Homo sapiens: one gene and its partner. Changing the gene in region 2 together with the main gene of any one other region gives a genetic interaction. Each region holds a gene or a part of one and is shown on either strand. Other genes may lie near its edges.

Evidence for each region.
Region 1: of MTHFD1 (region 2) and ATG10, changing one suppresses a phenotype caused by changing the other (phenotypic suppression), as found in Homo sapiens cells (one large-scale study listed by BioGRID).

The regions. Positions count from the first base shown.
Region 1 is NC_000005.10:82,163,774-82,167,594, reverse strand, and holds part of ATG10 (ubiquitin-like-conjugating enzyme ATG10), read right to left. Parts: intron 3,197-3,821; coding exon 3,058-3,196; intron 1-3,057. UniProt on the Homo sapiens protein: E2-like enzyme involved in autophagy. Acts as an E2-like enzyme that catalyzes the conjugation of ATG12 to ATG5. ATG12 conjugation to ATG5 is required for autophagy. Likely serves as an ATG5-recognition molecule. Not involved in ATG12 conjugation to ATG3.
Region 2 is NC_000014.9:64,412,267-64,416,087, forward strand, and holds part of MTHFD1 (C-1-tetrahydrofolate synthase, cytoplasmic), read left to right. Parts: intron 1-205; coding exon 206-259; intron 260-3,091; coding exon 3,092-3,228; intron 3,229-3,372; coding exon 3,373-3,473; intron 3,474-3,821. UniProt on the Homo sapiens protein: Trifunctional enzyme that catalyzes the interconversion of three forms of one-carbon-substituted tetrahydrofolate: (6R)-5,10-methylene-5,6,7,8-tetrahydrofolate, 5,10-methenyltetrahydrofolate and (6S)-10-formyltetrahydrofolate.

The DNA of each region.
Region 1 (3,821 bases), on a different chromosome or scaffold from region 2:
AGATACATAGATGGTTTGGGTCTTAGGTCTCCTGGAGACAACAGAATTACTTCCTCTTTCAAAACCTGGCATAGCAGTTGAAGTAGGCACCATCACAATGTTTCCATTCTTGGGCTGTATTTTTTAAATGACTAGAAATTCTTCTTTATCGTTTCACTTAACAAATACTTGATGCTGTGCCACAGCTGAATAAGCCATATATATACATACATATATCTTATACATGTATACACACAAAGCCATAAATAAAGCTTCTCACTTTGTAGGCACTCAGTATCAATTTCCTTCACTCTTGTTTTTATCTTGAAGCTCTATGTTCCAGCATATCATTTTATAGATATAAACAAATATTTCTGCTATAGTACAAATTGTGATATAATAGAATATATGATATGATATGACATGACATGACATGGGAGCGACAAGAATAGATGGCATGTTAACTGAGTCTTGGGCTACTAGTAATTGGCCTGGTGGAAACTGGACCATATAAAGAAAAGGAATTCAAAGTCTAAGGGATTTGCATTTCGAGAACCAGAGTAAAGATTTCTTCTGAAATCTAAACAAGTTGATACAAGAAAGGGTAATGTAAATTTAAATGGAAACTATTTATTACTTGTTTTGCTTTTCCTTAAAAAAATAGGTACAGGGAGAAAATTTAGAGCAAAGCAGAGAAATTAATTTGTACTAACAATCAAATGCAAAAGAAATTATAAATATCTGTCAAAAACAAGGCTAAGTGAACTATTTTTGAAGCAACAACAACAAAAAAAGACCCCTGGGCAAGAAATTTTACAGTCATCCTCTTTCTAGGTCGGAACTCTCTTAGAATGAGACAAAGAAAAATCCGGGCCTGGAATAAGAGGAAGACATTAGGAATCCTTTCACCACACTGACAGAGATTTGTTTAACAAACAGATGAAGGGCCAGAGTAATCAGATATCACAGGAAAAAGTAAGGAGAATAAAAAAGACTGGGGGGGGAATAAATGAAAAATTGTGACTCCAGAGTAAAGGTTGATACATTTTAAAAATATCCATGAGGTTAAGTTAGGTGGAAAGAAAAAATAAATTATTAGAATATGATAAAGGAAAGAAAGAACCATTCTTCATGTTTCTCCACCAGAAAACATTCAGTATGCTGCACAAAAATTAAATTTGATATTTTAATGTACCTGAACAAGCACTAAATGAATTCTGGGCCAAAATAAAATTTTAAATTCCTAATACCCACTCTACACAACACAAAGCAGTGGTGGTGGGGGGCGAATGCTTCTACATAAAAACAAATGACTTGTTTTGGTTTACCTTTATAAGGCATAAATGGAGGGCATTGTAAAAGTATACAAATAGAAGCCAAGAATGTTAATTGTGTTTTTTTAAAAGAATAGAAAATCGTGAAGAAAGGATCACAGAAACTACACCAATGTCATTAAAATATAATTGGACTTGCAGGAACAATTACTGTGCTGTACTGTAAGGGGAGCTGTTGGCACATAAGAGCAAAGCACACATATGAGCTCATCAGCAGGCCTTGGCAAGACCCACTTCCAGCTAGAAGCAGTCATGTTTCAACACCTCTGATTCCCTAATGCTGACAAGCTAAACAACTTGTTTTGTCTCTGGGAGCTCTTCTCTGGTGATTAACTGCTTATGGTGAATACTAATTATATGAAAGTACAGTATTGAAGAAGTAATGTCTTATTTCCTCTACCTGCAGCCTCGACTTGTCTCTGAATCTAGAAGGCAGAGCCATTGCAAACCAGAACCAAGAAAGACATTTTCCTCCCCCTGAATAAACAAATATATCTCCTACTTTTTAGTATAGCACAGCTCACTGACAAGAAACTTCCTTTAACCTCTGGGCTCCAAACCAAATATAATTACCATAAAATGAGTGTTTTAAAGGCTTGTAATAATTATATGGATAAATCCACAGCAAGAGTTTGTGAATTAGTGAACTATCAGTGTCCTCCATTCCCCATGTCCCATGTTGAAAATTTACCCCAAATTGTCAGTTCTTAGGAACTGCACCTCAGATTAAAATCTTCTCACCAGGGAGTCTATGAGAATTTCTTCTTGTGTTTTAAATCCTAAGTGCTTGTTAAACTGCCAACACTGCAAAATTAGAGACCATTAAACAATATAACAGCAAGTGATTAAATCTACCAAACATACATTCAAGCAGCTTAAGCTACTTTTGAATTAAAAATAAAATATCATTGGCTAAATTCAGATGTCTTAGCTATCCAGAAAAAAGTCAGAAGGCTGTTCAAAATGCACAATGCTGCTGATAAGGCCAGATACAAAAGGAGAAATAGGGCAAGGGGTTGGCTGAACAGGAGGCTCATCTTGGTCCCTGGGCCTGGGTGGCAGCACATCCCAATGCTGACCCGGTTTAGGCAGTGGACTCTAAGCGGGAAGCCATGGCTGTGCTGCAGAGTGAGGACGCCATGTGGCTGCTGATTAAATAAGCTTTATTAGCTAAGGCCTCCAAGGAGACAGGGTATTCCACCTTCTTGGCAGGGGAATGAGTTGAGTAACAGCATCACAGGAAGCTAAGGCATTGGAGATGTATAGATGGCTGAAGGAAATGTTAGTGCTATTTTTAAATACAGCTTAAGCTAATTGATAAACATTTCTTAAAATAATTATTAGCTTTTGGGGAAGGAGGCACAGGAGCTTCTGAGTTAATTGGATCATCTGAGATTAAAATAAATTTTTACTGTAAAGTTAGAAGTAAATAAACATTGTAGCTTTAAGTTGTTCCTACTTGTTTAAAGTAAAGAAAAGAAAAAGGGCCAGGGGGCTTAGTCAACTTCAGGCAAAAGGCCAAGAATCTGAAGATCAGACTTAAGGCTGAGATGATATCATTCACGCTGAAGTCTTGATACCCTTTCTGAAGCATGAGAAAATTTAGTGGTAAAACCTTACCTCACCCACAGTTTTCTCATTTTTAACTCTATTTTTTTTCCTCTGGAGAATAATTTTCCAAATATGCTTTTTGCTTTATATGTAAATGTTATAAATTTACTTTTAGCTTCAGACATGTTCTTACCTAAAAAGCTTGCCCTAAAGTAAAGTACAGGCACTTGGTAGCTACAGGAATATAAGACATGATACTCATATTTAATCACTTCGGACGCTGCTGCAGTTTCAATCACTTCACAATCATCCAAGGGTAGCTCGAAAGCCTCCTAAAAAAAAGCAAAAACAAAACGAAAACGGGTTTCTTAATAAGAAAAGTACTAACATGGAGAGGAAAAGAGGAGATTTTCTTCTCACAAAATAACAGTTAAATAAATATAAGGCTATGAGGCAAGGAAAAGGGAGTTTCCCATATTAATGTTTAACATTTGAGTCCTGGGTAAATAGTAAAACCAGAAAACATTAGCATTAAGTAATTCCAGATTGTTTTTGAGACACAAAGAGGCTCTGGATAAAGAAAAAGGAAAAAAAAATCTGAAAAGATCTATTGCCTGAAAAATCTTTACTGTACAATTTTAGCAACAAGATGATGGCTATATAAGCTACCTTCTTCCCTACCTGTGAAAGCTAAAAACATCCTAACAATTGAACAAGAGGCTGTGAAATGTCCCTAAAGATTCTATTGTACTTGCCAAAAGATGATTCATTGTGTGCTGAACAATTCCCAGTTCCATTTTGAATAAGAAAGTTATTTTGCAAGAGGTTGAATTTGTTAGGTATATTTCAAAACCTGAGATGATTCTGTTTTCTTCATTATTGTGCTATCTTTGGTATATTTCTACAATAAATCTTGATTTATAATAGAGTAGATGGCAAATATTAATGTCAACTTGA
Region 2 (3,821 bases):
TAGCAAGCATGACATTGCTGAAGTGCAGTGGTGGCAATTAACAAGTGAATGATGAATGGGTTGAAGTGAGGGACTCATTCTTCAGAACATATAAGGGTGAAATGATGACCAACACCTCCTTGCTTGTTAGTCATGTCTGTAAAAGAAATGGTTCAATATCTCAAGTTGTCTTGCCATTTACCTGCTTTTAATGTCTGTTTTGCAGATTGGGATCAAAGCCACTCACATTAAGTTACCAAGAACAACCACAGAATCTGAGGTGAGCTTTTATGAGTTGATTGTGAAGAGGGAAGGTGAAGTGGTTTCCTCTCTGGTTTTGGTTTACGGGGGCTTTGGGGACTGACACATTTAGCCAAGACCTCCAGGTATTTTTTTTTTTTTTTTTTTTGAGACACAGTTTTGCTCATGTCACCCAGGCTGGAGAGCAATGATGCGATCTCGACTCTCTGCAACCTCCGCCTCCCAGGTTCAAGCAATTCTCCTGCCTCAGCCTCCCGAGTAGCTGGGATTACAGGCGCCCACCGCCTCACCTGGCTAATTTTTATATTTTTAATAGAGACGCGGTTTCACCACGTTGGCCAGGCTGGTCTTGAACTCCTGACCTGAGGTGATTTACCCGCCTTGGCCTCCCAAAGTGCTGGGATTACAGGCGTGAGCCACCACGCCTGGCACCTCCAGGTATTCTTTCTTCACAGACTCCCACAGAGGAGATGGTGCAGGGATGAACATTTGGTACTCAAAGTGTGACTGCAGTACTGTTTGCTTCCAAATCATCTGTTGTGTTTGTTAAAACTGATCCTTGGAGCCAGGCACGGTGGCTCATGCCTGTAATCCCAGCATTTTGGGAGGCCGAGGTGGGCAGATCACCTGAGGTCGGGAGTTCGAGACCAGCCTGGCCAACATGGAGAAACCCTGTCTCTACTAAAAAATACAAAATTTGCCAGGCGTGGTGGCGCATGCCTGTAATCCCAGCTACTTGGAAGGTTGAGGCAGGAGAATCACTTGAACCCGGGAGGCGGAGGTTGCAGTGAGCCAAGATCGTACCATTGCACTCCAACCTGGGAAAAAAGAGCAAAACTCCGTCTCAAAAAAATAGGTAAAACCGATCCTTGGCCTGTAATTATCTGCATTCTAAAAACCAAATATGTATTCCTTTTATATGAGGTTCAGGACTAGGCAGAACAAATCAGCGGTGATTAAAGTCAGAACTGTGGTTGCCTGTAGGTGGGAGATTAATGCTAAACTGTAGGAGGATAAAGCAACTTTCTTGAGGTTATGGCAATGTTCCATATATGCGCTGTCCAGTATGGGAGCCACTAGCCCCATGAGGCTATTTGAATTTAGTTAAAATGAAATAAAATTAAAAATTCACTTCCTTGGTTGTACTAGCCACTTTGCAAGGATTAAGTAGCTGCTATTGTATTGTAAGGTGCAAATTATAGAAAATTTCTGCCATCGCAGAAAAGATGATTGGACATTGCTGCTCTACATCTTGATTTGGATGATTGTAACATGGGTATTATTGCTGTAATAAGTTATTAGAGTTCTTAGCTCTTTTTATTTTATTGTATTGTATTTTTAGAGACAGGGTCTCACTCTTTTGCCTCAGCTGCAGCACAGTGGTGTGATCATAGCTCATTGTAGCCTCAACCTCCTAAGCTCAAGTGATCCTCCCACCTTAGCCTCTTGAGCAGCTGGGACTATAGGCATGAGCCACCATGCCCAGCTAATTTTATTTTATTTTTGAGGCAGAGTTTTACTCTTGTCGCCCAGGCTAGAGTGCAGTGGTGCAATATTGGCTCACTGCAACCTCCACCTCCCAGGTTCAAGCGATTCTCATGCCTCAGCCTCCTGAGTAGCTGTGACTACAGGCATGCGCCACCACGCCCAGCTAATTTTTGTATTTTTAATTGCCCATATTGCCCAGGCTGGTCTCAAACTACTGACCTCAAGTGATCTGCCCACTCAAGCCTCCCAAAGTGCTGGGATTACAGGCGTGAGCCACCGCACCTGTCCCCGCTTTTTTTTTTTTTTTTTTTTTTTTGAGACAGAGTCTTGCTCTGTTGCCCAGGCTGGATGCAGTGGCATGATCTCAGCTCACTGCAGCCTCCGCTTCCTGGGTTCAAGCGATTCTCATGCCTCAGCCTCCTGAGAGGCTGAGATTACAGGCATGCGCCACTATGCCCGGCTTATTTTTTATATTTTTGTAGAGACAGGGTTTCACCATGTTGGCCAGGCTGGTTTCAAACTCCTGGCTTCAAGTGATCCAGTAGCTGCTATTGTATTGTAAGGTGCAAATTATAGAAAATAATTTTCTATATTTTGGGAGGCCTGCCTTGGCTTCCCAAAGTGCTGGGATGACAGGTGTGAGCCACCACACCCAGCCCTAATTTTTTTTTTTTTTTTTTGAGGTGGAGTTTCACTATTGTTGCCCAGGCTGGAGTGCAATGGCACAATCTCAACTCACTGCTGGAGTGCAGTGGCACTATCTCAGCGGACTGCAACCTCCACCTCCCAGGTTCAAGCAATTCTCCTGCCTCAGCCTCCCGAGTAGCTAGGATTACAGGCATGTGCCACCACACCTGGCTAATTTTGTATTTTTAGTAGAGACAGGGTTTCACTATGTTGGCCCAGCTGGTCTCAAACTCCCAACCTCAGGTGATCCACCCACCTCAGCCTCCCAAAGTGCTGGAATTACAGTCGTGAACCACCGCACCCAGCCCCTGGCCCTAATTTTTAAAAAGTTTTTGTAGATATCACATTTCACTGTGTTGTCCAGGCTGGTCTTGAACTCCTGGGTTCAAGTAATCCTCCTGACTTGGCCTCCCAAAGTGCTGGGATTACAGGCATGAGACACCTCGCCCAGCCTCTTAGCTCTTTTATTTGATGGACTTCTTACCAGACACCTAGGGGATGCATTCTATGTTAAAGTACAGGTGCTCTCAGGATTCAAGGGGAAGGTACATTCTGAAAGGACTATAATTAAAGTGTTGGGGGGAAATAGGGCAACCTAATTTTTGCCTTAGAAAGTGTTTCTTCCTACCTTTTGATTTCTGTGTGATATACAAATTATATATGGTATTACTTTTAGGTGATGAAGTACATTACATCTTTGAATGAAGACTCTACTGTACATGGGTTCTTAGTGCAGCTACCTTTAGATTCAGAGAATTCCATTAACACTGAAGAAGTGATCAATGCTATTGCACCCGAGAAGGATGTGGATGGGTAAGTGTGGCTTGGCTTCCTATGTCTCATTGCATGCTTTCATTTATAATATGTTTCTATTTGGGGAATACAGCATAAATGTTTCTAAAGAGTAAAGACATCTAATTGCCTTTATTTCCTTCTTATTTCCATCACTTTTTTAAGATTGACTAGCATCAATGCTGGGAAACTTGCTAGAGGTGACCTCAATGACTGTTTCATTCCTTGTACGCCTAAGGGATGCTTGGAACTCATCAAAGAGACAGGTAAAAACAACAAACCAAACAACAAGAAAGCACCATTTCCTGAATCCTGGTCTTGACATGTGGTGGCATAGAGGAGGTACATTGTGGGCCATAAATAAATGGACTTGATTGGCAGAAGGGCCTGTCTACTAAGGATGTTACCTAAATTTTCTCTCAATTTTCTCAGCAACTCTGTGAAGTAGGTACTGTTATTGTTCAACTGCTAAGAAAATAGGCTCAGGCCAGGCACAGCGGCTCATGCCTGTTATCCCAGCACTTTGGGAGGCTGAAGCGGGCTGAGATCACCTGAGGTCAGGAATTCGAGACCAGCCTGGTCAACATGGTGAAACCCTGTCTCTACTAAAAATA